Linked DNA regions of Homo sapiens: region 1 is linked to region 2. Evidence: fine-mapped expression QTL. Tissue or cell type: lung. Region 2 holds a variant in brackets; the other region holds the start of a gene. All regions are shown on one strand. Distances are between the middles of the regions.

Region 1 (8,000 bases), 96 kb after region 2:
ATTGGACACCAGTCAGATTGGATTAGCCCCCTGCCCCTCAGTGACAGTTACCTCTGCAAAGGCCCTGTCTCCAAATAAGGTCACATCCTAAGATACCGGGGGATAAGACTCCAGCATGTGGATTTGGAAGGACATTATTCAGCCCATGGCAGGGGCCCAGTCTCATCTTGGATTTGGGGTGGGAGTGCTCAGCAGACACTGGGGTTTCAGAACTGCAGGGTTTCTGGTAGCGTGGTGCTGGCACAGGGTTACAGGCATGGGTCTGGCTCTGAAGTGTTTGCCTTTGGCATCCCCCAAGTCCCTGAGGGGCTCTCTGAGGCCCGCTGTGACTGCACTGGGTGACCTGAGCCTGCCCGTTGAAGCTGTGCTCAGGGATTCTGATGCCTGGCATCCCTAGTCCCCCCTGAGTCAGCATCAAAGGAGGGGACTCTCCCTGTGTCCTGAGTGCTGTGGGCTCTGGCCTAGTGGCCCGCAGAGCCAGGCAGTGGTGAGACGGCCCCCGCTGCTCATCATGCAGCCCGGGGCCAGTGCTGACTTAGTGCCTCTTCCAGAGGGGACCTTTTCCCTGTCCTTGGGCCTGCTGTGTGGGGTGCATGAGGCCTCAGGTGCCACTCACAGACTCCGGCCTCCTCAGGACCCAGCCCCACTCCCGCGGGAGGTCTGCTGTGATTCTCCATGCCCCCTGGCGCCCCAAAGCCTGGCCCTCCCGTGCTCCGGCTTCTGCCCCCGAGTTTGTCAGTTTCTGCCGGTGCCTCCCGTACCCCCACCACCATTCACGCGCCTCTGCCAGCCTGGCCTTTCCCTGTCCATTTCCTCCTGGCCTTGCTGCCAGGTGGGCCTCCTGGGCCAGTTTGGCTCGGCCTTGCCCATGATCTGCGGGGCTTAGCTCCCACACCCTCCAGATACATAAACAAGCATTCCCCACAGCATGGTCCCAAGGACGGTGGCAGGAGGGCCCCAGGGATGGGTTTGCACGTTGGGCAAAGGCCTGAGTATGTCCGCACCTGCTGCAAGGAGCGGCTTTGCCTGCCCGGCTACTCCAGGCCCCTCCCCACAGAGAGGGAGCCCCGGGGAGCTGCCGAGATGGGGTTTGCTGAGAGCTCCATGCAGCCAGGTGCACCCTGTCCTTCGAGCCATCCTGTTGGAGGGTGGGCAGGCTAAATGGCCCATGCGTGCAGGTAGATGCTTAAGGACTGGCTAGTGTTAAGGGCCAGGAGGCTGGGATCCTGTCTGGGCCCCGAGGTATCAGTCTCAGCTATGGCAGAGTATGAGGTGGGCTTGGGGCCCTGGATCACCTAGAGACTGGCTTGCTGAGTGAGATGGCAGGCGTGAGGCCCAGGGAGACAAAGCTTTGGGTGGCTGCTGTCCACACAGGTGGGCTCCTTCCTTCTTCCCCCACTGGGCCCTCAGCTGCTCCCGCCTCCCATTTCCAGTGCTGCCTGGTCCCCTGAGGCGTGTCCCAGGTTGTCCCTAGGACTGTGAGTCCTTCAGCACCTCCCACCCAGCCTCTGAGCCTGGCTGCTCAGCAGGATTCCGCCGGGCAGCAGCAGCCATGGCCCAGCTCCCCACAGCCTCCGTCTCTGGGGCACCAAGAGCCTCCTGTCCTGGACTTTGCCTGGCTGAGAATTTCACTGTGGTCTGTGGTGGCCGCCACCTCTGAGGTCATAAGTTTGAGCTGGGCATCAGCGGGGGGCACCTCCTGCTCTCCCGAGCTGTAGTTTTCCTTCCGTGAGTTCCTGCAGTCCTGAGCATGGCAGGGGGACCCTAGGAGCAGGCTGGGCACTGAGCCCTCCCCTCCTCCTGCCTTGCAGAGCTCAGGCCCCGGGGCCTCCAGCGGCACCAGCGGAGACCACGGTGAGCTCGTCGTCCGGATTGCCAGTCTGGAAGTGGAGAACCAGAGTCTGCGTGGCGGTGAGGCCCCGGGCCAGTGGGTTGGGGCTGTCCCTGGCCCCTGCCATCTAACCGTGCTCCCCTTGCCCCCCCAGTGGTACAGGAGCTGCAGCAGGCCATCTCCAAGCTGGAGGCCCGGCTGAACGTGCTGGAGAAGAGCTCGCCTGGCCACCGGGCCACGGCCCCACAGACCCAGGTGAATGCTCTCCCCACGCCTGACACTGCAGGGGACCACGTGGCCCTGCTGGCTTCCACGTCGCCCTGTGGGCTGGCCCCAGCAGCAGTGATGAGCTGGCAGCCAGGATACTGGAGTCCTCAGGTCCCCAGGAAGGTTTACAGTTAGCCCTGGGCAGGTGGAGGCAGTTTTTGTCTTTCCTGGGGCCCTGCATGTACACAGCTGCGGTACACAGGGGCTGCCCTTCCTCCAGTCAAAGGAGGGAGGAGGGCCAGGAGGTGGCCAGGCAGCTCTGGGCCCTGGTTGGGGCGTCTCAGCCGTGCCTCCTGTCCCTTCCCCTGTGGCAGCACGTATCTCCCATGCGCCAAGTGGAGCCCCCAGCCAAGAAGCCAGCCACACCAGCAGAGGATGACGAGGATGATGACATTGACCTGTTTGGCAGTGACAATGAGGAGGAGGACAAGGAGGCGGCACAGCTGCGGGAGGAGCGGCTACGGCAGTACGCGGAGAAGAAGGCCAAGAAGCCTGCACTGGTGGCCAAGTCCTCCATCCTGCTGGATGTCAAGCCTGTGAGTGGGCGGGGTGGGGCTTCAGGGGGCCAGGCACTGCCCTGGTGCCCGCCTAGCCGGCTCAGCCTGTGACCCTCCCCCTGCCCTCTGGGTTCTGGGGAGACTTTAAAGCCGAGTTTAGAAGTCTTGGGATAAACACAAACTTGGAGGCAGGAAGGTGTGAATTTGGATTGTTTTCTGTGGGCCCTTTAAGGAAACAGAATTGTGGACACACAGTGGTTGAGGGTAGGGTGCATGCAGGTACTTCCTGGGTGTTCTGAGGGTGGCTGACCCCAGCTTTTCCTCCCCTTTCCCCACAGTGGGATGATGAGACGGACATGGCCCAGCTGGAGGCCTGTGTGCGCTCTATCCAGCTGGACGGGCTGGTCTGGGGGGCTTCCAAGCTGGTGCCCGTGGGCTACGGTATCCGGAAGCTACAGATTCAGTGTGTGGTGGAGGACGACAAGGTGGGGACAGACTTGCTGGAGGAGGAGATCACCAAGTTTGAGGAGCACGTGAGTGAGCCGGCCGGGGAGAGGAGGGGAGAGGAGACTGGGGACCCTGGCCCATACCCTGCACTCCACCCCACGGCAGTGGGGAGCGAGTCCCAGAGTGAACCCCACCTCAGAGGAGGCTCCTGGCTCCGAGTGGGCTGTAGGGGAACAGCCCTGACCGTCACCCTCCGCCTCTCCTCAGGTGCAGAGTGTCGATATCGCAGCTTTCAACAAGATCTGAAGCCTGAGTGTGTGTACGTGCGCGCGTGCGTGAGGCCCTGCCACGATTAAAGACTGAGACCGGCCCTCTGGCTCCGTCCTGGTCATTTCCTGCTCGTACCTGGCCTGTCTCCCTCCCTGTCTCAGCCCCATCTCTGCCCTGCTGTTCCCACACAGTCATCCTGGCTGCTGCCACCCTCTGTGGCCATGTCACCTTGCCCCCAGCAGACCTCCGCCTGTCCCTCCATCTCCTGGCCACTCCCTCCCAAAGCTCTGGCCCTCCCTCTTCTTTCCATTGCAAAAGCAAGTCCAGTTCAGGGGGTTTAAAAAGCCAGAAACAGAAACTGTTAGGTCACTATCTGGAGAGGCCACCACCCCACCACTCTGCCTCCTGTTGGCATTGTCCCCATGGGAGCAAGCGTGCAAGCCTGGAATTGTCCAGGAAAGAAGTCCCAGTAGCACCCGGCCCTGCTGCCATGCCCTTTGTCATGTGCTGTCCCGGCCCTCCCCTCACCTCATTCATTCCTGGAATCCCTGCCCCTTGCTCCAGGGACTGTGCCCCTCCCATGATGTTCTGGGGTGGCCAGAACGTGGCTGCCTGGGCTCTGTGGAGCTGTGCCTCAGCATCCTGACAGCCGTATGTGGTCAGCATGGGTGGCCACACTCCCTCCCCTGGACCACCCGTGTTTGCATTGGGGTGAAAGAGGATGGGGTGTAATTACTTGATTACTTCTGGTCAGACTCTGTCCTCGGGGCCCCAAGCCACAGGGGAATGGATTCTCCCTGGGTAGTGGCCCCTGACTTTGCCCTCAAACCTTTAGAAAGTTTCCTGTGGGGCTTGGACTGCAGGACCCCATAAAAGCCACCACTGAGGGACACTGGGCCTTCATAGCCACAAAAGGTCTTTTGGTGCCAGCCGACAGTGGGCATGCGCCCCCCTGCCCCACGCCGCCCTTTCCTGGGTGCCAAGCTCTTTCCAAGCGACATTTGCGTCCATCTGGGCTGCCTCGTCCTAGCCTGGCTGCTCAAGCTCTAACTAAGGCAGCCTCTGGCCTCCCTCCCCAGGCCCAGGGCAGGAGCTGGCTGCTGGCCAGCGGTTGTCTTCTGGGTCGGTGGGGGTGGAGTCTGGCTGGTCTGTCCTCCACCCTTTCCGCCGCCTGGCAAGTCCTGAGCTGCACCTCATTGCCCGGCCAAAGGGCAGAGACACGAGCGACTGGGGGCACCTCTGGTGACCAAGACCGGGCTGCGCTCCAAAGAGGCCGTTGGGCCTGGAGTGGGGTTGGGGGGTCCGAGAGGAGTTGGGTGACATCCCCCACCCCATCCCGGGTCCAGCTGTTTCAGCCCCTCTCGGCGCGCCGATACTATTAGCCCCACCCGTCCTCCATCGAGTCCCGTGCCGCTCCCAAACGGCACGATAAGCCCCACAGGGAGTGCGCCATAGGCCGGGGCGCGTCACGGGGTCGGGGCGGGGCGGAGTCCGGACGTCGGGAGCAGGATGGCGGCGGAGCAGGACCCCGAGGCGCGCGCGGCGGCGCGGCCGCTGCTCACTGACCTCTACCAGGCCACCATGGCGTTGGGCTATTGGCGCGCGGGCCGGGCGCGGGACGCCGCCGAGTTCGAGCTCTTCTTCCGCCGCTGCCCGTTCGGCGGCGCCTTCGCCTTGGCCGCCGGCTTGCGCGACTGTGTGCGCTTCCTGCGCGCCTTCCGCCTGCGGGACGCCGGTAGTCCCCCGTCCGCGCGACGAGCCCCCCACGCCCGGCAGAAACCCCCACCTATGGCCGGTGGAAGTCCTTGTCCCCCCGTGGAACCCCCCATGTCCCACGACCGGTCTGTCCCCGCGCTGGTCTCAGCGCAGTTACCTCGTTTCCAGACGTGCAGTTCCTGGCCTCGGTGCTGCCCCCAGACACGGATCCTGCGTTCTTCGAGCACCTTCGGGCCCTCGACTGCTCCGAGGTGACGGTGCGAGCCCTGCCCGAGGGCTCCCTCGCCTTCCCCGGAGTGAGTAGGGGTAAGCGGGCGGCGCGGCGGCCACGGGGTGCTGGGCCGAGCGCGGAGCTGACTTCTCTCCCCGCAGGTGCCGCTCCTGCAGGTGTCCGGGCCGCTCCTGGTGGTGCAGCTGCTGGAGACACCGCTGCTCTGCCTGGTCAGCTACGCCAGGTGGGCTGCGGGCCACTGGCAGGGAGCGTGGGCATGGGATGGGCCCCCAGCGCCGGGGCTCCGTGCTGGACTGTGGCGGCGGGGCTGGCTGCCCAGGGGTCCCAGGACTGGCCTCCCGCCCCCACTCTTCAGGGTGTAAGGAGGGGCTGGGTGAGGGTGGAGCTCCCAGGTTGGAAGTTCCAGGCCCCAGGTAACCGCCGTCTTGGGTGGCCTAGTGATCCTCACCCTGGGACCCCCTGACTCTTGGCTCCCCACAGCCTGGTGGCCACCAACGCAGCGCGGCTTCGCTTGATCGCAGGGCCAGAGAAGCGGCTGCTAGAGATGGGCCTGAGGCGGGCTCAGGGCCCCGATGGGGGCCTGACAGCCTCCACCTACAGCTACCTGGGCGGTGAGTGTCTGGTGCGGGGCAAGGCAAGGGCCGGGAAGGAGGAGCCCCATCTTGGCCCGAGGTCCCCCAATCCCACCGCCTTCCTCCCCAGGCTTCGACAGCAGCAGCAACGTGCTAGCGGGCCAGCTGCGAGGTGTGCCGGTGGCCGGGACCCTGGCCCACTCCTTCGTCACTTCCTTTTCAGGCAGCGAGGTGCCCCCTGACCCGGTCAGTCCCTCCTCTAAACCCTGCTGTCTCCAGGCGACAGGCCCCAAGCCAGCCCTTGCCCTGGCGAGAGGTGTGCCACCCAGGCAGGTCACCCCAGTGCTGTCCCAGGAAGCTGGCACGGGCTGCATTACCTTTGCTCTCAAACTAGGGTGTCCCTGGCTGCTCCCAGGCCTCATCCTGCATTCCTGGCCCCCATTCTTCACCGACTCTGTTCCACAGATGTTGGCGCCAGCAGCTGGTGAGGGCCCTGGGGTGGACCTGGCGGCCAAAGCCCAGGTGTGGCTGGAGCAGGTGTGTGCCCACCTGGGGCTGGGGGTGCAGGAGCCGCATCCAGGCGAGCGGGCAGCCTTTGTGGCCTATGCCTTGGCTTTTCCCCGGGCCTTCCAGGGCCTCCTGGACACCTACAGCGTGTGGAGGTGAGCCCGGGCACTTTAGGGGTGGGCTCAGCAGAACCTCAGCAGCCTCTGACTCCCTTATCTATTTCTGCAGGAGTGGTCTCCCCAACTTCCTAGCAGTCGCCCTGGCCCTGGGAGAGCTGGGCTACCGGGCAGTGGGCGTGAGGCTGGACAGTGGTGACCTGCTACAGCAGGCTCAGGAGATCCGCAAGGTCTTCCGAGCTGCTGCAGCCCAGTGAGTTTCCCGGGGAGGAGGTGTGCCTGGTGGGAGATCCCCGGGGTTTGGGAATGGGCAGGGAAGGACAGTGAGGTACTCTGCTGAAGTTTCAGCGGTGATACTGCAGGCCGTGGCAGGGAAGTAAGTGGTGGGGCTCCCTAGGAGCTCCCAAGCAGAAGGTGAGCACAGGTGTCCTTGACTGAGGCGGGGCGGGGAGCAGGGGGACACCAGGGTGAATCAGGAAGACCCGAGGGGTGGCCCCCACCCTTTCTCCACCCACGCGGCAGGTTCCAGGTGCCCTGGCTGGAGTCAGTCCTCATCGTAGTCAGCAACAACATTGACGAGGAGGCGCTGGCCCGACTGGCCCAGGAGGTGGGGTGGATGAGTGGGTAGGCGGAGGGTGGCTGGGGGGCTCTGGGGGCCCCTGCAGGTTCTGGCTGGGCTCATTGCCACCTCCTTCCCCGCCCAGGGCACTGCCACCCCCTTCCCCACCCAGGGCACTGCCACCTCCTTCCCCCACCCAGGGCACTGCCACCCCCTTCCCCACCCAGGGCACTGCCACCCCCTTCACCCAGGGCAGTGCCACCTCCTTCCCCACCTAGGGCACTGGCACCTCCTTCCCCACCCAGGGCACTGCCACCCCCTTCCCCACCCAGGGCAGTGCCACCTCCTTCCCCACCCAGGGCAGTGCCACCCCCTTCCCCACCCAGGGCAGCTGGGCTCACGGCCACCCCCTTCCCCACCCAGGGCAGTGAGGTGAATGTCATTGGCATTGGCACCAGTGTGGTCACCTGCCCCCAACAGCCTTCCCTGGGTGGCGTCTATAAGGTAGGGACAGTGTCGGGGGCCCAGGTGGGGGCAGGTCTGAGGGATGGTGCTGGGTGGGGGATAAGGACCAGCCAGCTCAACGCCCTCTTCCTGCAGCTGGTGGCCGTGGGGGGCCAGCCACGAATGAAGCTGACCGAGGACCCCGAGAAGCAGACGTTGCCTGGGAGCAAGGCTGCTTTCCGGCTCCTGGGCTCTGACGGTGAGGCCCTCCCATCCCCCCTGCTGTCCACCTTCAAAGCACCAGGGCCCCCGCTTATTCTTGCCCCGTCCACACAGGGTCTCCACTCATGGACATGCTGCAGTTAGCAGAAGAGCCAGTGCCACAGGCTGGGCAGGAGCTGAGGGTGTGGCCTCCAGGGGCCCAGGAGCCCTGCACCGTGAGGCCAGCCCAGGTGGAGCCACTACTGCGGCTCTGCCTCCAGCAGGGACAGGTGGCTGCCCCACCGCCCTCATCCTGACCCCCAGCCCCGGTAGAGCCCTGA
Region 2 (8,246 bases):
CAGGCACATGTGCCAGTTTCGTCATGTCTTTAACTGTATCTTCAACTACTTGCCCCGATCATGTATGTGCAGGCAGCAATTGGTAAGGTTCAATTTCCCACAGACTTCTCCTTCAGCTGCTAGCAAGTAGTCGAGAGTCAATTTATTTTGATAGATAGCATTTCTCATCTGAGTTTCTTGCCGGGCCAGAATAGTCAAGGCTCTGCCGGTCCTATTAGTGATTATTTCTAAGACAGCTTGTAACCGTATGATTTGGTTGAGCATGTAGATGGGGGTCCGGTATCCCCACAAGCCATCTTGTGCCCAAGTAGCAGGCCTATAATATTCCATCATTCTCTCAGGGGGCCATTTATTATCTTTCTTATTTTTTTATAGCTATGCTTCTCTTTTCGCGGGAAACATAGGGAAGCCCAGGAGTTCACCTGTCTTTATAGGCAGTAGGAAGAAAGATGGTTTAATAGTGCCAATCACACAACTGCCTGCCCACTGGTCGGGTAATTTGGTGTAAGGCCTATGCCCACACATTCAGTATAATCCAGTGGGGGCTGTCCAGTCTCGGTGGGACTCCGGATGGGTCCACACGGTTTGCAACTTTGGGAATTTACTAAATGGATTTTTCTTAGTATGGTTTGAACTCCACTAGGTGGCTGTTTTTGTAGTACCATTATACAGTTTTTGCCTAAGGCAGCTGAGTCGTCCTACAGGAAGGGTGAAGTCCTTCCTTACTCTTTTTTTTTTTTTTTTTTTTTTGAGACGGAGTCTTGCTCTGTCACCCAGGCTGGAGTGCAGTGGCGTGATCTCAGCTCACTACAAGCTCTGCCTCCCGGGTTCACGCCATTCTCCTGCCTCAGCCTCCCGAGCAGCTGGGACTACAGGCGCCCGCCACCACGCCTGGCTAATTTTTTATATTTTTAGTAGAGACGGGGTTTCACCGTGTTAGCCAGGATGGTCTCCATCTCCTGACCTTGTGATCCGCCCGCCTCGGCCTCCCAAAGTGCTGGGATTACAGGCGTGAGCCACCGCGCCCGGCCCCTTACTCTTGCTATACAGTATTGTCTAGTGATTGAGGCTTTTAGGACCCGGAAGTTATCAGGGTGATTTTTCTGAGCCAGGAATTCGTCAGGAACTGGGTCTGTAGGTACTAATTCTTGGGCTTCCCGTGGCCATTGGTCTTTTATTATAGTTCCTCCACACACATAGCATGAAGTGACATTGAGAGACTGGGCTACATGGTCAGCTAATTGCAAACAAATTTCTTATTTTTCCTGGAATTTCTGGTGCTGGCACATTCAGTTCATCATAGAAGGTTTGAAATACTGGCTCAGGAGAGCGTTTATAAACTTCTCCTCAAACCACAATATTTACTTGAAGATCCAGTCCAGCCCCATGAATTTCTAGGGTTATGGCCGGGCACGGTAGCTCACGCCTGTAATCCCAGCACTTTGGGAGGCAGAGGCGGGCGGATCACGAGGTCAGGAGATCGAGACCATCCTGGCTAACACGGTGAAACCCCATCTCTACTAAAAATACAAAAAATTAGCCGGGTGTGGTGGCGGGCACCTGTAGTCCCAGCTACTCAGGAGGCTGAGGCAGGAGAATGGCGTGAACCCGGGAGGCAGAGCTCGCAGTGAGCCGAGATCGCTCCACTGCACTCCAGCCTGGGTGACAGACCGAGACTCCATCTCAAAAAAAAAAAAAAATTCTAGGGTTACACATTTCCTTTTTTTCCAGCGAGGATTAAGGGGGTTGGTTATTACTAGTTCTAAGGGGTTACACTGACCACTGGTATAGGAAGGGCCACTTTTCCTTTTCTGAAGGTGGACAGAATTTTTTTCATTTTTTATCCAAGTAGCCTAAATGACACAAGACCAGTAACTACATTCATTTCCACACAGTCCTAACTCATGATAAATGTACTTATTTTCTGCCATACAGCCTCTTTCCTAATGAAGAGAACCACATCCTATTCCTAACTTATTAGTATTAATGACAGCACAGGCATCACACTTCAAGGTGACTTGTTTGGGCACCTCTTTTTGTTTGTTTTTTTTGGCTAACACTTTACTCATATTGTTTATGAGCCCCCACCAGTCTTTAATTCTTAATCTTATTTGAAAAACTGTGGTCATGGGAGGCTCAGATGGGTCATAACACACATCAGGTTGGTCATTTCCTGGGCACATACCTTGTATAGAATAACATTATACAAACAAGTTCTTTTTAGAGTTCCAGTACACTTATAATAACCGTAAAATAATGGGACTGTAGCAACATTTTGTCCTCCCTCAGTGACTTGATGTATACACTAGGAACAGTCCTCAGTCTGAGGAGGGTGAGTTGAAGTCCTTACTGTACAAGTCCAAATTTTAAGGAAAACGAGTCCTGCGATGAGTTTCCTCATGCTTCGGCCGTGCATGGACCAGTCAGCTTCTGGGCGTGACTGGAGCAGGGCTTGTCGTCTTCCTCAGAGTCACTTTGCAGGGGTTGGCGAAGCTGCTGCTATCCACGTACTGCTCACAGTCTACTGATGTTCAAGGATGGTCTCGGAGGTTGCGCCTGCTAGAATAAACTGAGTCCAACACCTCTACACAGTTATGTTCAACTGGGCTCCCCGATACCGGGAGCAAGGTGCTGGGGTTTAGGGTGTTGCAAACTGCAGTGGTTATGTGGGGATTTTCACACAGCAAGCTTTGGTACTTGGTTAATCTAGCATTTGTTAGCCAATGATGTCCTTTGGGATTCATCAAAGTTACCACAGCATGGGGGGCCTTTATATTCAGGTTTTGTCCAAGAGTTAGTTTATCTGCTTCTTGTGCTAACAGGGCCGTTGCTGCCGGGGCCCTTAGACACGGGGGCCAGGCTTTGGAAACCCCCTATAGTTGTTTAGAGAGATAGGCCACTGCCCTTAGCCAGGGCCCCACAGTCTAGGTTAAAACTCCAAATGCCATTTTTTCTCTTTCTGACACATAGAGTGTAAAAGGTTTTGTCACGTCAGGTAGACTCAGGGCTGGGGCCAACAGGAGTTTTTCTTTTAACTCATGAAAAGCTTGTTGCTGTTGGTTGTAATAGATGTAGTTTATCTAATCTACACTTTTATTAACTGTCACCTACTAAAATATTGACGTAAATCCTATAGCTATTTGATTTCAAGCTTTAATTGATCTGGTGTTCCTTGAGGGGCCCCAACTGCATCCAAATAGACGTGAGAGTTGAAAGACCCATAAGGGGCTTCTCTCGCTTTATGACGTCTTATTTTTTCTCCCTCTGGTTGATGAAATGCCAGGGTGAAAGGGATAGCCAAACGGACTAAAGCACAAGTGCCATTCCAGTTATTCAGCAGAGTGCCCAGTAAAGGTCCACCACAATACCACCACACATCCGCACAGGGATGAACAAGGGCTGACTGATTGATAAGCTCTCGAAAATTCTTAAGCTCATCGCATCCCTTCAGGTCTCCAAGGAATGCTGTTTCCTCCCTGTCGTGAGAGACACGAAGTGAACTTAGTGTTGGGAGACAGAAGCTGGATGGCCCTTGCGGGCTGACCCACAGGGTGCTGGATTTCGGGATATAGCAGAGAGAGCTTGGCACGTCTTGTTACTGCAGGCTGTAGAATCCTGGAAAAGAGCTACTATGCAGCCACGCCTGGTCGACTGGCGACCACCTTAGTGGAGGGGGACAATCTGGGCCTCTGGCCTGCCATGTGCACAAGCGTAACAGTTGCTTTTGTTTAATGTGTAGATGGAATATTTGATCCATTTTAACCAGGCATTTGCACCTTGGTATCCTGTCCTAATTGTTAAAGTTTGTTTTAAGTCTTTAACTTCTATGATCCTCTAGTATTCTCCATTCCCCTCTTCTGCAGCCCTAGAAACCACCGTTCTACTTTGTTTCTATGAATCTGGCTACTGTGGATACCTCGTAGAAATGGAATCACACACAGTATTGGTCCTCTTGTGACTGATTATCTCACTCAGCACAATGTCCTCAAGGTTCATCCCTCTTGAAGCGTGTGTCAGAATTGACTTCTTCTTTAAGGCTAATATTCTGCTGTGTGTCCATACCACATTCGGTGTATCCATTTGTCCATTGACGGACTCTTGAGCCGCTGGGAATGGTGCTGCTGTGAACGTAGGGGTGCAAACGTCTGCGTGAGTGCCTGCTTTCACAGCTCTGGGAATATGCCCAGAAGTGGAATGGCCAGGTCACAAGGTCACTCCAGGCACCACACGCCGAGGACCCGCC[G/A]GTCACTCCAGGCACCACACGCCGAGGACCCGACGTCACTCCAGGCACCACACGCCGAGGACCCGCCATGCTGCTCTCCTTAGGAGGTGTACTATGTACTATTTTACATTCCAAACAGCAGCACACAGGGTTCTAGCTTCTCCACAGCCTTGCCAATACCTGTTATTTTTCTGTTTTAAGTTGTTTCTGTTTTGTGTTTGTTTTGTTATTTTAATTGTTTGCCATCCTAATGGGTGTGAGGTGGTATCTCATTGTGGCTTTGATTTGCAGTTCTCTAAGAATGAGTGGTGTGAACATCCTCTCATGTGCTTATTGGGCCATTCTTTTCTTTACTTTTTTTTTTTTTTTTTTGAGACGGAGTCTCACTTTGTCGCCCAGGCTGGAGTACAGTGGCGTGATCTCAGCTCACTACAACTTCCACCTCCTGGGTTCAAGCAATTCTCCTGCCTCAGCCTCCCGAGTAGCTGGGATTACAGGCACCCACCACCACGCCCCGCTAATTTCGTATTTTTAGTAGAGACAAGGGTTTATCCATGTTGGTCAGGCTGGTCTCGAACTCCCAACCTCAGGTGATCCGCCCACCTTGGCCTCCCAAAGTGCTAGGATTAGAGGTGTGAGCTACCACGCCCAGCCTATTGGGCCATTCTTGGGAGAGAGGTCTAATTAGTCCTTTGCCTATTTTTGAATCAGGTTGTTTTTGGGGAGTCGTTTTCTGGAGTGTTCCATGGTAAGTAGGTCTATGTAAACCTGTCTCCAAAGTCCGAGGAAGCTGAGAGGTCAAAGAAAAAGGCTAACAAACCCAGTTTCTTAGAAAGAAACACTTAACAGGGACTTAGAAAAAGAAGCCATGTCTGTCTTGGCAGCGGCAAGAGGAGATACTGGATCCCACCATTGCCCCCGCCCAGGGCTTGTGTACCACGGGGAGGGTTGGGAGGGAAGTGCAGGACAATGGGCGGCATCAGGGCCGTCTGACCCTGCGGCAGGGTTTATAGCAAGTGCCTGCCCTTACACAAGGAACAACAGATCACCTGGAAACGTCGGAGGCCTTCCCTGGACGGGTTAGTCGAAAGCCCACACAATAGTCACCATCCAGGCTGGAGCGGCTTTGGCCTCCACAAGGAGTTCCTTCGATATTTTGGATATGAGTCCCTCATCGGACACGTGATTTGCAGATATTCTCCCGTTCTGTGGGGAAGGGGCAGCTTTTCACTCTTTTAGGAGTGTCCTTTGATGAACAAAAGGCTTTAATTTTCACGAAGCCATTTGGCTGTTTGTTGTTGTTGCCTGTACCTTTGGTGTCCAAGGAATCATTGCCAAACCCAGTGTGTGTCAAAAGCTTCTGCTCCCAGTTTCTAACAAGAGTTTACTGTTTCAGGTCTTGCATCCAGATCTTTGATCCATTTTTACTTTTTATTTTACTTTATTTACTTATTTTTTTGAGACAGTCTTGCTCTGTTGCCCAGGCTGGAGTGCAGTGGCGTGATCTCGGCTCACTGCAACCTCTGCCTCCCGGGTTTAAGGGATTCTCCCACCTCGGTCTCCCAAGTAGCTGGGATTTCAGGTGTGCACCACCACACCTGGCTAATTTTTTTTTGTATTTTTAGTAGAGACAGGGTTTCACCATGTTGGCCAGGCTGGTCTCGAACTCCCGACCTCAGGTGATCCACTCTCCTCAGCCTCCCAAAGTGCTGGGATTACAGGTACAAGCGGTGCAAGCCACGGTGCCCAGCATGATCCATTTCTAGTTAATTTTTGTATGTGGTACTGACGAGGGTCCAACTTCATTCTCTTGCATGTATCACACTTTCCCAGCAACAGCCACTGTAACCTCTACCTCGTGGGCTGAAGCCATCCTCCCGCCTGAGCCCACCACGTAGCTGGGCCTGCAGGAGTGCATCACCACACCTGGCTAACTTTTCAAAATTTTTTGTAGAGACAGGTCTCAATATGGTGCCCAGGCTGATCTGAAATTCCTGACCTCAAGCAATCCTCCAACCTTGGCCTCCCCAAGTGCTGGGATTACAGGCATGAGCCATGGTGCACCCTGGCCCCACCAGGAGATTGTATATCCATGGGTACTGGTGACACTGGGCCTCAATAGAACAATTCCATATATACTGTATATGATTCCATTCACAGGACATTCTTGAAAAGATGGAATTACAGAAATGGGCCAGGCACTGTGGCTCATGCCTGTAATCCCAGCACTTTGGGAGGCTAAGCGAGGTAGGCGGATCACCTGAGGTCAGGAGTTCCAGACCAGCCTGGCCAACATGGTGAAACCTCGTCTCTACTAAGAATACAAAAATTAGCCAGGCATGGTGCATGCCTGTAATCCCAGCTACTTGGGAGGCTTGGGAAAATCTCTTGAACCTGAAAGGTGGAGGTTGCAGTGAGCTAAGATCGCGCCACTGCACTCCAGCCTGGGCAACAGAACAAGACTGTCAAAAAAAAAGAAAGAAAAGAAAAAGAAAGAAAGAGAGAAAGAGAGAGGGGAGGGAAGGAAGGAAGGAAGGGAGGAAGGAAGGAGAAAAAAAGAAAAGAAAAGGAAAGGACAAGAAAAGAAAAAAGAATTACAGAAATGGACAGAACAGATGAATGGTTGCCAGCCCTGAAGGAGGGTTGGAGGGAGGGAGTGGGTGTGGCTGTGGAAGGGTGAGGACCATATCCTGACTCTGTGAACATCAATACCCCAGCTGTGTGCACTGCAGGGTTCCAGGTGCTACCACTGAGGGAGGTAAAGGGTGCCCAGCATCTCTCTGTAAAACACCTTACAGCTGCATGCAAATCTAAAATTATCACAAAAAGCTTAATTAAAAATAAATAAACGTGTTCCTGCCTAGCTGCCTGGTCTAATTAAATTAGGGTGGGTGCATGTGGGACCTGGCTGCCGCAAGTGACGCCAGTCCATAACCGGGGCTGACACCATTGCCTCTGGGGTCCCCACCAGGTCCCCCGCCCTGCGCAAGGCACAGGTTACCTTTACTGCTAAGGTTCTAACTATGTGAACCCCTTCTAAAGGGCGAGCCAGGGAGAGAGGCCCCAGAGGGCCGGCACTCTCCCGAAACCAGCTAGGAGAGGATGCGGACACCACACAGAAGGCCCATCGCACCCCTTTGGTAAACCGTAAGTCTCATAATCCCAGCAGTTCAGGAGGCCGAGGTGGGTGGATCACCTGAGGTCAGGAGTTCAAGACCACCCTGGCCAACATGGTGAAATCCTGTCTCTACTAAAAATACAAAAATTCGTCGGGCATGGTGGCGTGCACCTGTAATCACAGCTACTCAGGAGGCTGAGGCAGGAGAATCGCTTCAACCCAGGAGGCAGAGGTTGCAGTGAGCCGAGATCTCACCACTGCACTCCAGCCTGAGTGACAAGAGTGAAACTCTGTCTCAAAAAAAAAAAAACCCTTAACTAATGGGTACAAAAAAATTAGAAAGAATAAGACCTAGTATTTGATAGCACAACAGGGTGACTATATTCAATAATAATTTAATTGTACATTTTAAAGTAACAGAGTATAATCGGATTGTTTGTAACGCAAAGGATAAATGCTTGAGGGGATGGATACCCCACTATCCATGATGTGACTATTACACTTTGCACGCCTGTATCAAAACGTATACCCCATGGGAGGCTGAGGCAGGTGGATCACTTGAGGCCCGGAGTTCGAGACCAGCCTGGCCAACATGATGAAACCCCGTCTGTACTAAAAATGCAAAAATTAGCCAAGTGTGGCGGTGCTCGTCTGTAGTCCCAGCTACTCGGGGGCTGAGGCAGGAGAATCACTTGAACCTGAGAGGCGGAGCTTGCAGTGGACTGAAATCACGCCACTGCACTCCGGCCTGGGTGACAGAGTGAGACTCTGTCTCAAAAAAAAAAAAAAAAGAAACAAAAACATGTACCCCATAAATACGTACGCCTACTATGTGCCCACAAAAATTCAAAACAACGCAAAACAAAACCTCTTAACACCAAATCCTAAAACTCTTAGTCTTCATAT

What was found. PIP is the estimated chance that this variant, and not a neighbour inherited with it, causes the effect.
Region 1: it holds the start of NAPRT, and the variant in region 2 is fine-mapped to the expression of NAPRT in lung (TOPMed, PIP 0.97).

Annotation. Positions count from the first base shown.
Region 1 is chr8:143,575,140-143,583,139 of GRCh38, reverse strand. It overlaps NAPRT (nicotinate phosphoribosyltransferase), which reads left to right and starts at 4,810. Exons shown (of 13, transcript NM_145201.6): 1 at 4,810-5,047; 2 at 5,197-5,324; 3 at 5,401-5,483; 4 at 5,741-5,871; 5 at 5,963-6,078; 6 at 6,298-6,494; 7 at 6,568-6,708; 8 at 6,978-7,062; 9 at 7,438-7,518; 10 at 7,615-7,717; 11 at 7,795-7,949. The coding sequence starts at 4,822. EEF1D (eukaryotic translation elongation factor 1 delta) reads left to right here. Exons shown (of 10, transcript NM_001130053.5): 6 at 1,812-1,911; 7 at 1,986-2,086; 8 at 2,413-2,634; 9 at 2,934-3,128; 10 at 3,310-3,412. The coding sequence ends at 3,348. RefSeq lists enhancers at 3,586-4,494, 4,495-5,402.
Region 2 is chr8:143,671,061-143,679,306 of GRCh38, reverse strand. No RefSeq gene overlaps it. Among named protein-coding and RNA genes, the nearest start is that of ZNF707, 9.3 kb to the left of the region's middle. The variant G/A (reference allele first, on the strand shown) is at 4,244.